Regions from separate parts of the Homo sapiens genome. Here region 2 is linked to region 1. Evidence: fine-mapped expression QTL. Tissue or cell type: whole blood. Region 1 holds a variant in brackets; the other region holds the start of a gene. All regions are shown on one strand. Distances are from middle to middle.

The links. PIP is the estimated chance that this variant, and not a neighbour inherited with it, causes the effect.
Region 2: ODAD4 starts here. The variant in region 1 is fine-mapped to the expression of ODAD4 in whole blood (TOPMed, PIP above 0.99).

What each region holds. Positions count from the first base shown.
Region 1 is chr17:41,961,685-41,969,784 of GRCh38, forward strand. It overlaps ODAD4 (outer dynein arm docking complex subunit 4), which reads left to right. Exons shown (of 12, transcript NM_031421.5): 12 at 3,309-4,819. The coding sequence ends at 3,799. CNP (2'',3''-cyclic nucleotide 3'' phosphodiesterase) reads left to right here and starts at 5,111. Exons shown (of 4, transcript NM_033133.5): 1 at 5,111-5,203; 2 at 6,384-7,056. The coding sequence starts at 5,201. RefSeq lists silencers at 1,402-1,551, 4,854-5,293, 5,424-5,613 and enhancers at 4,384-4,483, 5,585-6,142, 6,143-6,700, 6,701-7,258. The variant AAG/A (reference allele first, on the strand shown) is at 4,051.
Region 2 is chr17:41,927,449-41,935,548 of GRCh38, forward strand. ODAD4 (outer dynein arm docking complex subunit 4) reads left to right here and starts at 3,169. Exons shown (of 12, transcript NM_031421.5): 1 at 3,169-3,389; 2 at 7,769-7,900. The coding sequence starts at 3,276. It also overlaps a transcript of ACLY not described here. RefSeq lists enhancers at 2,292-3,195, 2,908-2,997, 3,178-3,277, 7,995-8,100.

The sequences.
Region 1 (8,100 bases):
CGCACTCATTTCTCTCTTCAATTGATTCATCAAGTATATGGTGAGCACTTGTCATGTACCTGGAAGGTGTTAGATTCTGGGGAGAGAGGCCCATCCCTGCCCTGGAGGAGCCCATGGCCCTTTGGGCAAGGCTGACCAGTGGAGTTGTCAGCTGCTGGGATCCTGCACACAGGTGCTACACCGAGGTGGAGGTGTGCTGCCATGAGGGTGCATGCAACGGGGCGTGGGCTCCTCTGGGGAGGCAGAGGAGGCTTCGACGAGGAAAAATCTTCTACCTCCAACTCCAAAAGATGCCCAGGAGTTTTCCAGGAGAGAAGTGGGAGAAGAAAGGCATTTTTCCAGCAGGGAACAGCAGGGCCAGAGGCACAGAGACAGAATAACAGTAGCTACACTTTGGGGGCTCTTACTGTGTGCTAGGCACTGGGTTAAGCACCAGACAGGAGTGATCTTGTTGGGTCTTTACCCCACTAGGAGGTGTAGGTGCTGTGGGGGGAAAGGGAGGCTGAGTGAGGTGAGTGCTCTGCCAGAGTCATGTAGCTAGGGAGGGGTGACTCGGGGCCCCACTCTCCCCACCTGCGGCGCTGCTCTCGGGCCAGCAGTGTGATGGGCAGGTGCAGAGGGGCATAAGGTGCAGAGGCTGCCTGACAGCTGTGCCTTACCACATTCTTTCTCACAAGGTCTCCAGGGAGTAAACAGGCCTTTGGCCCCCTGCCTTTGGGCTCTCCTTTCCTGCAGGGAGGGAGTGAGGGAAGGAGAAGCAGAAGATGGCTGAGCAGCCCTACCCCACTGGAGAGGGGCCTAGAGGAACAGGGGTGTTAAGCGCAGTAGCCGACCCCCATTCATGCTTCCCGCAGGCCAGGCATTCTTTCAAAGACTGTGTGCACGGACTCATCCTATCTGTATCTGTTCAGGAACACTATGAAGGAAGTGTTATTAGCTTGACTTTATGGAGGACATGGAGGCAGAGGGGTTAGAGGCTACAGTGGTTTTCAGTCTTGGGCAGTCTGCTCTAGAACCCACGCGTCGGCCCGTGCCACACTGTTTCTAGTGACACAGACAGCCTTTTCCTGCCCCAGTCTGTGGAGCTCTCACTCCAGCCAGACTGCAGTGAACAGAGCTGGGGCTGGAGGTCCGGGAGGACAGAGCCCAATGCAGATTCTTGGCTGCAGCCCTCCAGGCTGCAAGGCTGAAATCCTTTCTGGTCCAGGCAGGGCAGCGGGAGGTTTCTGGGCACCTGAGCAGCCAGATGACAGCCCTTTATTATCCAGCACCTGCTCTGTGGTGGCTGGACCCCCTCAGAGGGGCTCTGTCTCCGCCCCCACATGCCCTTTGAGCTGCTCTGAGAAGCCACAGGAGCAACAGCTGTGGAGAGAGACTCTGCGGGGAAGCAGCCAACACCCCAGTCTCCCTACCCTGGCCTGCGTCCTTGTGCCTGGAGAACTGCCGGGCACGTCCCTCTCAGAACAGCAGGTGGCAGCATTGCATCTGTTTTCACCACCAAAGGGCTGTGACCCCCTGAGACCTGAGACCCTCTGCAGATACCTCAGTAACTAGTGGTTTCCAGGAGGAGAATGTAAGGGAGACGCAGAAGGGGATGTAACTTTTCTCCATAACTGATAAAAAAAAAAATTTAGGAGCAAGGATCCCTTTGCTTGTAAAATAACTCTTCAGCTGAACTTTTTGTTAGCAGCGTATATCTTTATAGGAAACCTATCTTTTTCCTTATGTTTTTTCTATATTTTCATAGGAAACCTCCCAACAAATAATGAATGTGCTTCCCAGGGACAAAGAGAAAGTGTCAGAATGAAGATGCTGGAGAAAATCCTTCTGTCATTTTCCAGCACCTATGCTATTTCTTGCAGGGAAAAGAGGTGTTCTGGGGTCAGACTGTCCTGGGTTCAAATTCTGTCTCACTTGCACACTTGCAGTGTGACCATTGTGTGATTTCTTTTCTTTCTTTTTTTTTTTTTTTGAAACGGAGTCTTGTTCTGTCATCCAGGCTGGAATGCAGTGGTGCAATCTCAGCTCACTGCAACCTCCATCTCAGCCTCCCAAAGTGCTGGGATTACAGGCATGAGCCACTGTGCCTTTTTTTTTTTGAAATGGAGTCTCCCCTCTGTTACCCAGTCTGGAGTGCAGTGGCGCGATCTCAGCTCACTGCAACCTCCATCTCAGCCTCCCAAAGTGCTGGGATTACAGGCATGAGCCACTGTGCCTTTTTTTTTTTTTGAAATGGAGTCTCCCCTCTGTTACCCAGTCTGGAGTGCAGTGGCGCGATCTCGGCTCACTACAACCTCCGCCTCCTAGGTTCAAGTGATTCTCCTGCCTCAGCCTCCTGAGTAGCTGGGACTACAGTCTTGTGCCACCACTCCCGGTTAATTTTTTTTTTTTTTGAGATGGAGTTTTGCTCTTGTTGCCCAGGCTGGAGTACAATGGCACAATCTTGGCTCACTGCAACCTCCGCCTCCTGGGTTCAAGCGATTCTCCTGCCTCAGCCTCCCAAGTAGCTGGGATTACAGGCGCCTGCCACCATGCCCAGCTTATTTTTGTATTTTTAGTAGAGACGGGGTTTCACCTTGTTGGCCAGGCTGGTCTCAAACTCCTGACCTCAGGTGATCCACCTGCCTCGGCCTCCCAAAGTGCTGGGATTACAGGCGTGAGCCATGCCGCCCGGCCGTGTGATTTCTTTTCTATCGATCTCAGGTCCCTTGACTGCAAACTCAAATCAACGGCAGTGCGCATTTTCATGATGTCTGGATGGGATAAGCTATACAGCCCTCACGTGATGCACAGGACGGAGCTGGGCTCAGTCAATGATGGTTCCCTTTCTCTGCTTTTGGAAAGGTGTGCTGTCAACACCAATTTAAAGAGCTGGCAAAAACAGTCATTCTCAGGGCCTTTCTCTCATCGGCCTCTCAAAAGCACAGGCCTCCACAGAGATGAACAGTTTCTTTCTTTTTTTTCTTCTTTCTTTTTTGGAGACGGGTCTTGCTCTGTCACCCAGGCTGCAGTGCAGTGGCTGGATTTTGGCTCATCACAGCCCCAACCTCCTGGGCTCAAGCGATTCTTCTGCCTCAGCCTCCGGGTAGCTGGGACTACAGGCGCCAACCACCACGCCTGGCTAATTTTTGTATTTTTAGTACAGACAGGGTCTCACTGTGTCGCCCAGGCTGGTCTGGAACTCCTGGCCTCAAGGGATCTGCCTGCCTCAGCCTCCCAAAGTGCTGAGATTACAGGCGTGAGCCACCGCACCCGGCCTGACATGAACAAACTTTTATCTTTCTTCCCGCTTTTCTCTTATTTTTCAGAAGCTTCACTGTATGAAGATAGAATAATAACAAGAGAGAAGGACATGAGGAGAGTGAGAGATGAGCCCGAGAAGGTGGTGAAGCAGTGGGACCATAGTGAGGATGAGAAAGAGACAGATGAGGACGATGAGGCTTTTGGGGAAGCTCTGCAGAGCCCAGCAAGCGGAAAGCAGAGTGTGGAAGCAGGAAAAGCCAGAAGCGATTTGGGAGCAGTTGCCAAGGGCCTGTCAGGAGAATTAGGCACAAGATCAGGAGAAACAGGCAGGAAGCTACTAGAAGCTGGCAGAAGAGAGTCAAGAGAAATTTATAGGAGGCCTTCGGGAGAATTAGAGCAAAGACTCTCAGGAGAATTCAGCAGACAGGAACCAGAAGAACTAAAGAAACTTTCAGAAGTGGGCAGAAGAGAGCCAGAAGAACTGGGAAAAACACAATTTGGAGAAATAGGAGAAACGAAAAAAACAGGAAATGAGATGGAAAAGGAATATGAATGAAGCCATCGGTAGAGATGAGGATCAGGAAGCTGGTGTTCAGAGGGATCATGGGATTTTATTAAACTGGATTTTCAAGCGATTTGTCTGTTATAGGAAAAATGAGGGTTTTACTTCTGCTGCTTTCCATCACTATTTTGCCATTAAATAGGTGTCTTTCACTCTTGCAAACCCTGAGTCTGTCACTTTGCCTCTTCACCCCTGCCCATTCTTGGAAGAGCATCGTGGAAGAAATGAGAAAGGTGCCAAGAAGA[AAG/A]GGTTTCAGGAGGGTGAAGATACGGGCGCTACAGGGAACAAGAAGTCACAGGGAGGAGAGGGGAAGGCCTGGGAGGAGAGGTGCTTCCCACACACCGGTGACTGACTGAGTCCCTCCAGTGCGCAGGACAGCGGGGAGGCTTTATGGATGGAACAGTGGTGGGGCGGCCCCAGCTGTCACAGGTAGGAGAATGCCGCAAGCCAGAACCAAGCGAATGCTGGGAGTGAGGCCAAAGATAGGGGAGTGGCCTGGGAGTCGGGAGGGCAGACAGACTCCGCCTCTGACACCTCTGGGTGGCATAATCAGGTAAATCAGGCTCTCCAAGCTGGCTTCTCCTCTGAACAATGGGATACCTGCCTCAGGGGTTGCTGCGAGGACTGAGTGCTTAGCACAGCACTTGGACAGGAAACTCAAAAATCCAACGGAGCTCTCAGTGGTTTCACAGAGGAGGTGGCAGCTGAGGATCTGGCCTCAGAGGATGTTAGGATTTCACTCCGTTACTCATCTGTCCCTTTGGCCATTGCCATCCTGGTCTGTCTCCACAGCTCCTAGAAGGAAAGGTCGGGGCTGAGACTGACTTTCGGCTGGCACAGGGCCTGGACGAATGAGGCCAGTGAGGCATTTCAGATGCAGAGTTTACCGGAATGCCAGCAAATTGCATGATAATATTTTAATCCAATGTGGTAAAAAAAAAAGTTTTTAATTAATGCAAAAGTCCATGATGAATAAAATATCAAAAATTAAAGACAGGATCCGACTTTGCACGACCCTGCCTCACTCACTTCCTGCTAATCCACGGGACCGGGGAGGGTGACTGAGTTACCCCTCAACACGCAGAAAAAGCTAGTGGCCGCTCAGCTCGCAGGCGCAGTGGGTGGGTGCGCGTGGGGAGCAGGCGCGCGCAGGGGGCGGGACCGGGCCGAGGTTCCCGCGCGCGGCGAGAGTTTCGGGTTTTGGTTCGCAGCGCCTGCGCGCAGAGGAGACGGCCCGCCCCCAGCCCGCCCGGGTGCCCGCTCCGCCCCCCGGGCTATGTAAAGCGGCCGGGCTCGGGTCGTGCCACCGCTGGACTCCCGTGTCCCTCCGCGCAGGCGGGCGGCCCCGGAGCGCTGGTGCCGGCAGAGGCGGCGACGGTGGCGCCCCTCCTCATCATGGTGAGAGGCCGGGCGGGGCCGGGCACGGGGTAGCACCAGGGCGGGAAACGAGTGTCGGGGCCCCTCGGGAGGAAGCGTCTTGCAAACGAGGACCCGGGGCTCCGGGTTCGACTTCCAGTTTTCTTGGTACTCAGGGCGGCCCTGAGGTCTGGGAGAAGCGGAGGGGTTTTGGGGTGCCGGAGAGGCCGCTGTAAAGGGAAACGGTGGTGTTTCTCAGGAGGGAACTCGGGACCGCAGAAGCTGCTGCGCCTCTGGGAGCCTGGGTGGGCCTGGGCCGGGAGCCCGGGAGCTGCTCCCGACCCCACGCAGGCCCGCGCTGGGGCAGCCGCTTCGGCGCCCCCTCCCCGGGCCCAGTCTCATCACGCGGAACCGCTGCCCCGCGCCCGGGTGCGGGCGGGAGGTGGAGCCAGTTCAGAGGAGGGGACCCTTTACGGTAAAAGCTGCCGTCCCTTGTGGCTTCTAGAAGATAGGAAAACAAGTGGCTCCGAGAGGCGCTTCTGACACACAGCACAGCGGCGGGTAGAGCTGGATCCTAATTGCAGGTGCCCTGTGCTGCCCTGTTCTGGACAGGCACAAAGACCACGACTTTGTGGGGGCCGGGAGAGGGTAGAGGAGGAGGTGGCAGGCTTGGTGAAAGAGGGCCTTTGTCCAGTGCTCTCCTGCCCTGCCCCCCACCAGCCCTTCTGTGGGACCATTGTACCCGCATGCCAGACAAGAGAGTATTATCTGTTGCGGCCATTGTTGGGGGAAGGGAGGCAGTCTTGGGGTAACCCTTCTCCACTCCCCCCCTTCTCTGTGCACTCAGCCGTGGCAGCTGTGGCTTGGCCCAGACACAGAGACCCCCACCTCCAAAGAGGACGTCCTTAGTAGGTGCCAAGCATATAAGAGTGAGGCCAGTCCCAGAACCGCAGGCTCCTGGCGCGCCCCGCATGCCTCCAGCACGTTTACCTTTCCGAAGTGGCAGGAATGGGGAAAGCGCACGCTTAGGAGAGCTTCAGACAAGCTTCCCTCTTCCTCCTCCACGACCAGAAGCGGAAAGGTGCTCCCGGACCGAAAGGGAAAGAAGGTCCAGCACTGCCCCGCTTGGGAAGGCACCCACAACCAGTCTAGGGACTAGGGGTAAGGCCGGCGGGGAGCCCGCGAATGACCTGGGCTGACATCTCTTCCCCTCCTTACACAGAACAGAGGCTTCTCCCGAAAAAGCCACACATTCCTGCCCAAGATCTTCTTCCGCAAGATGTCATCCTCAGGGGCCAAGGACAAGCCTGAGCTGCAGTTTCCCTTCCTTCAGGATGAGGACACAGTGGCCACGCTGCTAGAGTGCAAGACGCTCTTCATCTTGCGCGGCCTGCCAGGAAGCGGCAAGTCCACGCTGGCACGGGTCATCGTGGACAAGTACCGTGATGGCACCAAGATGGTGTCGGCTGACGCTTACAAGATCACCCCCGGCGCTCGAGGAGCCTTCTCCGAGGAGTACAAGCGGCTCGATGAGGACCTGGCTGCCTACTGCCGCCGCCGGGACATCAGAATTCTTGTGCTTGATGACACCAACCACGAACGGGAACGGCTGGAGCAGCTCTTTGAAATGGCCGACCAGTACCAGTACCAGGTGGTGCTGGTGGAGCCCAAGACGGCGTGGCGGCTGGACTGTGCCCAGCTCAAGGAGAAGAACCAGTGGCAGCTGTCGGCTGATGACCTGAAGAAGCTGAAGCCTGGGCTGGAGAAGGACTTCCTGCCGCTCTACTTCGGCTGGTTCCTGACCAAGAAGAGCTCTGAGACCCTCCGCAAAGCCGGCCAGGTCTTCCTGGAAGAGCTGGGGAACCACAAGGCCTTCAAGAAGGAGCTGCGACAATGTAGGTGGCAGGTTGGGGCCTTATAAGCCCACCTTGCTGGGCACAGGGTGCTGCGGGCAAAGGACCATCATTGTACTCAAAGGATGGAGCACGAAGCAGCAGGAGGCAGAGAGAGGCTCACCTCAGCGGGGGCAGGGGCAAGCGGTGCGTCCCAGTGGTAGCCTTGGGGAGTTGGCAGCACATTGGGAACACGGGGGCTTCCCAGAGCGCCTTTCCTCCCACCACACCTATCCTTCTAGCCCTCTTCTCTCCGACACCCTTTTCCCAGCCTGAATGTAGACCACTGTCCCTTGTCTTGGAGGTGGGAAAAACAAATTACTGTAGTAACAGGAAACATGTCCTCTTCTAATGTAACCTTAGAGGGGGAATCAAGCCCAGTGTTTTCCAACGCATTTTTAGCAGCAGAATCATGTTCCAAAAAATAATAATAATAATCACATGAAATTGTAAGCTGCAAAAAAATTAAAACTAGGACTATTGTGGCTTCACTGGGGATGGTTCTCAGGCCTCGGACTGCTCAATTTACTCATGGGTTTGTGGCATCTGCAGCTCCAGAGGACACAAGTCTCACACTTAGGCCAAAACCCGTTTTCAGATGGAAAAACATGGACCCAGGAGGGATGTGGGGTTTACGGGCTGGAACCCTGGACTCTGGCCACTCTAGCAGGGTTCTCTCTTGGCATGGGCTTTTTGCTCCAATGATAGGTTTGAGATAAAGAAGGGTCCTGGTGGCTCTCCTGGAGTGACCTGTTGGAGAAGTGCCACCCACTAATCCATCTATATGCCTTTAGGCCATTTCTGGTTGCCTCCAATTTTATTTATTTATTTATTGTGACACGGAGTCTCCCTCTGTTGCCCAGGCTGGAGTGCAGTGGCGCTATCTCAGCTCAGTGCAACCTCTGCCTCCCAGATTCAAGCAATTCTCCTGCCTCAGCCTCTCGAGTAGCTAGGACTACAGGTGTGCACCACCACGTCCAGCTAATTTTTGTATTTTTAGTAGAGACGGAGTTTCACAATGTTGGCCAGGCTGGTATTGAACTCCTG
Region 2 (8,100 bases), 34 kb before region 1:
GTGCTGGGATTACAGGTGTGAGCTACCACACCCGGCCACATTTAAATATTTCTAGTTAATTTTTGTATATGGTATGAGGTAAGGATCAAGGTTTAGACTAGGCGCAGTGGCTCATGCCTGTAATCACAGCACTTTGGGAGGCTAAGGTGGGTGGATTACCTGAGGTCAGAAGTTCGAGATTAGCCTGGCTAACACAGTGAAACCCTGTCTCTACCAAAAATATGAAAATTAGCCGGGCATGGTGGTGCACACCTGTAGTCCCTGCTACTTGGGAGGCGGAGGCAGAAGAATCACTTGAACCTGGGAGGCAGAGGTGGCAGTGAGCTGAGATCACGCCACTGCACTCCAGCCTGGGTGACAGAGTGAGACTCCATCTCAAAAAAAAAAAAACTCAATATTTATATTTAGACAGGCATGGTGGCTCACATCTGTAAGCCTGGCACTTTGAGAGGCCGCGGTGGGAGGATTGCTTGAGTTCAGGAGTTCAAAACCAGCCTGGGCAACATGGCAAAACCCTGTCTCTACCAAAACAACACAAAAATCAGCTGGGTGTGGTGGTGCGTGTCTGTAGTCCCAGCTACTCAGGAGGCTGAGGTGGGAGGGTGGCCTGAGCCCAGAAAGCAGAGGTTGCAGTGAGTCAAGATCTCACTACTGCACTCCAGCCTGGTGGACAAGGCCAACTCTCTCTCAAAAAATAAAAATAAAAATTAATTAAATACATATTTACATTAAAATATTTCCAGTTGATTTTTGTATATAGTGTGAGGTAAGGATCAAGGTTTTTTATTTTGGATTTTGTCTTTCCATATGGCTATCCAATTGCTTCAGCACACATTTGTGGAAAAGAGTATCCTTTCTCCATTGAATCTCTTTGGCAACTTCATTGAACATCAATTGATCATATATGTGTGGATCTATTTCTGTTCCATTAATCCATATATATTTACATATTTATGCTAATACCATTACCGTAGCTTTAAAATAAGTCTTGAAATCACAGAATTTAAGTTCTCTTTTGTTCTTCTTTTTCAAAATGGTTTTGGCTATTTTAGGTCTTTTGCATTTCCACATAAATCTTAAAATCAGCTTGTTAATTACTGAAAAAAAAAAAAGGCTGCTGGGGCCAGGCACAGTGGCTCATGCCTGTAATCCCAGCACTTTGAGAGGCTGAGGCGGGCAGATCACCTGAGGTCAGGAGTTCAAGACCAGCCTGGCCAACATGGTGAAACCTCATCTCTACTAAAAATACAAAAAATTAGCTGGGCATGGTGGTGTGCACCTGTAATCCCAGCTACTCAGGAGGCTAAGGCAGGAGACTAGCTTGAAACCGGGAGGCGGAGATTGCAGTGAGCCGAGATCACATCACTGCACTCCAGCCTGAGTGACAGAGTGAGACTCCACCATAAAAAAAAAAAAAAAAAAGCTGCTGGAGTTCTGATTGGAACTGCACTGAATCTGTAGATCTCTTCCTTGCAGGAGGTTTTTTTCTGATTAATCCTGGTTGCTCCAGCAACAGTCCTCAACTCATCAATGAGCCCACCTTAACTTAGAACAGGACCAGTTTCACTGCAGGTCCTTAAACCTGTTGCTGCTCCTTAAACACCCTGTGAATGTACACACCTCCAGCCTTTGCACATGTTATTTCCTTTTTTTTTTTTTTTTTTGAGACAGGGTCTTGCTTTGTTACACAGGCTACAATGCAGTGGCCCAAACATGGCTCACTGCAGCCTCGACCTCCCACGCTCAAGTGATCCTCCTGCCTCAGCTTCCTGAGTAGCTGGGACTACAGGCACACGCCACCACACCCAGCTCACTTTTGTATTTGTGGTAGAGACAGGGCTTCGCCATGTTGCCCAGACTGGTCTCGAACTCCTGAGCTCAAGCGATCCTCCCACCTCAGTCTCCAAAGTACTGGGATTACAGGCATGAGCCACCACACCTAGCTCTCATTCTCTACTTACGTCTACTGGGCTCCACCATACTCACCCTCAGCTCAAATATTACCCCTCTATGAACATGTCTCTAACCCATCCCAGACCCTGGCTGAATCATTCATTTGCCTGGGTTTCACACCACTTTGTCCTCATCTCCCTCACAGGCACACAGAACTTTTAATTACTAGTTAATATCACTTAAGTGGCCGTTACTTGTTTATACATCTTTCTCCCCTATTAGATAAAACTCCTTCAAGCAGGGACCATATTATTTCTTATATTTTGAATTAAACCTTTTGAGATAATCATAGATTCATATGCAGTTCATAAGAAATAAATACAAAAGAGATCCCATGTACCCTTTTCCCAGTTTCTCCCAATGGTAACATCCTTAAAAACTTTAGTACAATAACACAACCAGAAAATTGACACTGATACAATCCACTGATCTTACTCAAATATCCCCAGTTTTACATGTATGCCGTGTGTGTGTGTGTGTGTGTGCATTTGTAGTTAAAGACATCTTTTTACTATTTAAACTTTAACAATGACATTAGGACGTTTTGGAAGTAACGTAGTAAAGGCAGTTAAGCAAGCTACTTAGGGTATCGTTGGAGCCCAGAAGAAGCACCTAGTCCACTTTTGGAGGAGTGGTGATGGTGAGGGAATGGGGAAGGACGTCAGAATATGCCTTGGTCAAGGCCCGCTACTAGTAGCTGCTCAAATAACTGCGTTAAATTATGTTGAACCCAACGTTATTTTCCATGTTTTCTTATGCAAATCCTCGCATCCCTGAGTGTTCCATTATTTTCATATTTATTTGGCAGGTGGAACATTCGAGGCTGGGAGCCCTTACATGCCCCGCGAGAGGTCACGCAGTTAGGAAGTGACAGGAGCGAAGTCAGCCCAAGTCTGCTGACTCCAAGCCCAGTGCTCTCTCCCCCTAATGGCGGTACGCCGTGCACATATCCTTACCACGTATGCCTCATCCCTATTCGGAACTTTGCCTCCAACCCTCTTCCTGTTTTCTTGGCTGTCTTACAAGGGAGCCTTTTCAGGCAGCAACTCCAGAGAGAACCGCCAGAGCGTGCAACAGCAAACACTAACCAGCCCAGCCGTCAGCCACGCAATCATCACTCCCTGGCCCAGTGCGCGGCAGAACTGGCGCAAGCGCACGCCGGCAGGTTGTACCCAGAATCCGGGCCCTTGCCAGACGGGGGCGGAACCGGAAGTCGCTGTACATCTCATGGTTGCTAAGAAACGGAGCTTCCACAAACCAGATAGAGGTTCTCCAGCTTTTCTTTGATTGTCTCTGCTTTAGCGTCTCTAAATCCGGTCACCATGTCGGACCCCGAAGGCGAGACCTTGCGAAGCACCTTTCCCTCTTATATGGCCGAAGGCGAGCGGCTCTACCTGTGCGGGGAATTTTCTAAAGCCGCGCAGAGCTTCAGCAACGTGAGTCGAGCTCTCAACCTATCCATCACCCCATCACCCGTCACTTTTTTTTTTTTTTTTTTTTTTTTTTTTTGTGACGGAGTTTCGCTCTTGTTGCCTAGGCTGGAGTGCAATGGCACGATCTCGGCTCGCCGCAACCTCCGCCTCCCGGGTTCAAGTGATTCTCCTGCCTCCACCTCCCAAGTAGCTGGGACTACAGGCGCGTGCCACCATGCCCGGCTAATTATTTTGTCTTTTTAGTAGAGATGGGGGTTTCACTGTGTTGGCCAGGCTGGTCTCGAACTCCTGACCTCGTGATCCACCCGCTTCGGCCTCCCAAAGTGCTGGGATTACAGGCGTGAGCCACTGCGCCTGCCCCCTGCCCTCACCTTTTGATTGCAGATAACACTGAGGTCTTGATGATGCCTGGAGGACCCTGTTGTTTCTATTATTCACTGATTTTTGATGGACACACTGCTGTCACAGATAAGCCCTGTGGTTGGCCATTTTCTACCAGTTCCCACTTGCAATCTCCATTCTCTGCGTTAACAGTGACCTTTTCCTCCACTTTTACTTAAATGTTTCATGATTAACCGGCCTCCTTCCACAGAGCAGCCTTACCTTCCCATCATTTGCTGGCAGATTGGATGGGAGGTTGCATGCAGAAGCCTCAATGTCCCCAGCACACCGTTGCTTATAAAAGGTGGCCAGTAAGCAACATATGATTATTATTATCAATTTTGAGACAAAGTTTTGCTATGTTGCCCAGGCTGGAGTGCAGTGGCAAGATCTCAGCTCACTGCAACTTCCGCCTCCCCAGGTTCAAGCGATTTTCCTGCCTCAGCCTAGGGAGTAGTTGGGATTACAGGCATGTCCCACCACGCCTGGCTAATTTTTGTATTCTTAGTAGAGACAGGGTTTCACCATGTTGGCCAGGCTGGTGTCGAACTCCTGACCTCAAGTGATACACCTGCCTCGGCCCCCCAAAGTGCTGGGATTACTGAGGTGAGCTGCTGCACCAACCAGCAACATTATTATAGTAACCCTAGTATAAATTGCATCATCCCACCCTAAGGGGATTGGGTGATGGTTTTTGTTGTTGTTGTTGTTGTTGTTGTTGTTGTTTTGGAGACGTAGTCTTGCTCTGTCTCCAGGCTGGAGTGCAATGGTGCGATCTTGGCTCACTGCAACCTCCACCTCCTGGATTCAAGTGATTCTCCTGCCTCAGCCTCAGGCACACTGCTAAGCAGACTGGATTTTTGTTGTTGTTAAGATGGAGTTTTGCTCTTCTTGCCCAGGCTGGAGTGCAGTGGCGCAATCTCGGCTCACCCCAACCTCCACCTCCCAGGTTCAAGCGATTCTCCTGCCTCAGCCTCCCGAGTAGCTGGGATCCCAGGCATGCACCACCATGCTCGGCTAATTTTGTATTTTTAGTAGAGACGGGGTTTCTCCATGTTGGTCAGGTTGATCTCGAACTCCCCACCTCAGGTGATCCCCCCCCACCTCAGCCTCCCAAAGTGCTGGGATTACAGGCGTGAACCACCCCACCCAGTGCATACTCAATTTTATAGATTAGGAAATATACAGAAGTTGAGCAACATGCCCAAGGTCGCTAAACTAGCAAGTGGCAGAGGAAGGATTCAAAGCCGGGCTCAGACTCCAATGCTGAGGTGCTAACCACAAAACTACACATCTGACATCTGCATAAGGAAACTGTTGTTTTTTTTTTGTTTGTTTGTTTTTTCAGAGACAGGATCTCGTTCTGTCTCCCAAGCTGGAATGTGGTGGCACAATCACAGCTCAATACAGCTTCAAACTCCTGAGCTCAAGTGATCCTCCCACCTTAGTGTTCCAAGTAGCTGGAGCTACAGGCTTATGCCACCACGCCTGGCTAATTTTTTCTTTTCTTCTTTTTTTTTTTTTTTTTTGTAGAGATAGGTGTTTTGCTATGTTGCCCTGGCTGGTATTGAACACTTGAGCTCAAGTAATACTCCCGCTTTGGCCTCACAAAGTGCTAGGATTACAGGTATGAGATACAGTGCCCTAAAAACATGTTTTTATGACCATTTCTTTTGCTCCAAATTGCCCACTTCTTCTGCTCCAAATTGCCCACTTCTTCTTCTAGATGGAGTGATAGGATAACCCTGTAGTTTTGAGACTTCCTGTAAGATCAAGCTTCTCAACAGCTCCCCAGAGTCGTTTGTCCCTTTCAGTCACCAACCACACCCTAAAACCAGAAATGATGACCAGATAAGTGAACAATTGAGTTCGGTAGCCCTGTCCCCACTTATTCTCCTCCTGCTGGATCATGTCCCATCCTGAAGTACCCACCAGCAGAGAAAAAAGAACACCCTGAGGGAAGGGTAGCCTTGGATGAGAAGCAGTCACTTTCCAGAAAGACAGTAGCTACTTCCTCTTCTTAGAAAAGTAGGAAGGTCTTAGAAAGGGGTGGGTACCAGGAGACAGAGGGTTGCAGTGAGCCAAGATCATGCCATTGCACTCTAGCCTGGGCAACAAGAGTGAAACTCTGTCTCAAAAAAAAAAAAAAAAAAGACCAGGTCAGGTGGCTCATGCCTGTAATCCCAGCACTTTGGGAGGCCAAGGCAGGTGGATCACCTGAGGTCAGGTGTTTGAGACCAGCCTGGCTAACATGGTGAAACCCTGTTTCTACTAAAAATACAAAAAATCAACCGGACGTGGTGGCGAGTGCCTGTAATCCCAGCTACTCCGGAGGCTGAGGCAGGAGAATTGCTTGAACCCGGGAGGCGGAGGTTGCAGTGAGCCGAGATCGTGCCATTGCACTCCAGCTTTGGCAACAAGAGCAAAACGCCATCTCAAAAAAAAAAAATTAGCCAGGTGTGGTGGCGGGCACCCGTAGTCCCAGGTACTCGGGAGGCTGAAGCAGGAGAATTGCTTCAACCCGGGACTCGGAGATTGCAGTGAGCAGAGATCGTGCCACTGCACTCCAGCCTGGGTGACAGTGTGAGACTCTGTCTCAAAAAAGAAAAAGGGGGGTGGGTACAGTTAGATGCCTCAGGAAGGACAGTACACCACAGACTATGGTAATCATCTCACACAGAAAAGAGGACACTGGGAGTGGGGATATTGCCCTCAACCCCACTTTAGGGTCAAAATCAGTTTCATTTTCCTAGCATTTTCTTTTTTTTTTTTCTTTCTTGTTTTTCATTTTTCTTTTCCCTTTCTTTCTTTTTTCTTTCTTTCTTTTTTTTTTTTTTTTTTTTTGAGACAGCGTCTCACTCCATCACCCAGGCTGGAGTGCAGTGGCATGATCTCAGTTCACTGCAACCTCTGCCTCCCAGGTTCAAGCGATTTTCTTGCCTTAGACTCCCGAGTAGCTGGGATTACAGGTGCTTACCACCATGTCTGGCTAATTTTTGTATTTTTAGTAGAAATGGGTTTCACCACGTTGGCCAGGCTGGTCTCAAACTCCTGACTTCAAGTGACCCACCCACCTTGGTCTCCCAAAGTTCTGGGATTACAGGTGTGAGCCACTGCACCCGGCCTCTTTTTGTTTTGTTTTGTTTTGTTTTTTGAGACAGAGTCTCATTCTGTCACCCAGGCTGGAGTGCAGTGGTGTGATCATGGCTTATGCAGCCTCGACCTCTCCAGGTTCAAGCAATCCTCCCATCTCAGCCTCCTGAGTAGCTGGGACTACAATCATGGACCACCACGCCCAGCTAATTTTTTTGTATTTCGTAGAGACAGGGTTTTGCCATGTTGCCCAGGCTGGTCTCAAACTCTTGGGCTCAAGCGTTCCGCCCACCTCGACCTGCCAAAGTGCTGGGATTACAGGTGTGAGCCACCACTCCCAGCCTTTTCCTGGTATTTTCATCTTAATCCCCGGATATAGTGATTAGTTCTTGATTAGCTACATAAAAAGAGAAGGCTACTGGAATGGTTAAGCCACATGGCAGATTGTCCTCAAGTCCACTTCAGAATGCTTAGCCTTTGAAATTTGCTTTGAGTATGATGTGTTGCCATTTCAGGTTTGTAGTTGAGTTTGGTGTGCACAAAATACCCTACAGTTCTATTGCCTGAGGGGACTGAGGGGCTCTCAGACATTGGTGGAAAGTCAGCGTATCCACAGAGCAGCATATTCCTACTCTTCAGCCAGTGGCTTCCACAATAGCCATGATTTGACCTTGTTCAAGGTGAGCCATATGCAGATAATCAAGTTGACTGAGCGCAGATCGGAGTTGTTCTGCTTAGGAGCCAGAGGCCTGTGTGCTGGCCTGAAGAATCCCCTTGATTCTTCAGAGCCTTGATTTCTTCAGAGCCTGAAGAAATCCCCTCTGCAGGAGGGTTTGGGCTGCCCTTCCCACTCCAGCTTCTACCTTGCTCTTCATGCTGGCTGTCAACCTGACTGGTTTCTTTGTCAGGCTCTTTACCTTCAGGATGGAGACAAGAACTGCCTGGTTGCTCGCTCAAAGTGCTTCCTGAAGATGGGAGACTTGGAGAGATCCCTGAAGGATGCTGAGGCTTCGCTCCAGAGTGACCCAGCTTTCTGTAAGGTGACTGCATGGGCGGGAGGACTGGATCCTGCCATTGCCTGTAGCAACTTCTGGTTACAAGTAGTTGTTACAAGTAGAACCAGCCAGACTGCCTAGTGTTTGATGCCATTTTCTCTTCCTAGGTCATTGCCTAAGTCCCTGCCCCCTGTATTCCAACCTTGACCTTCAACCCAGGACCCTTCTGTTCCACCACATGTGAG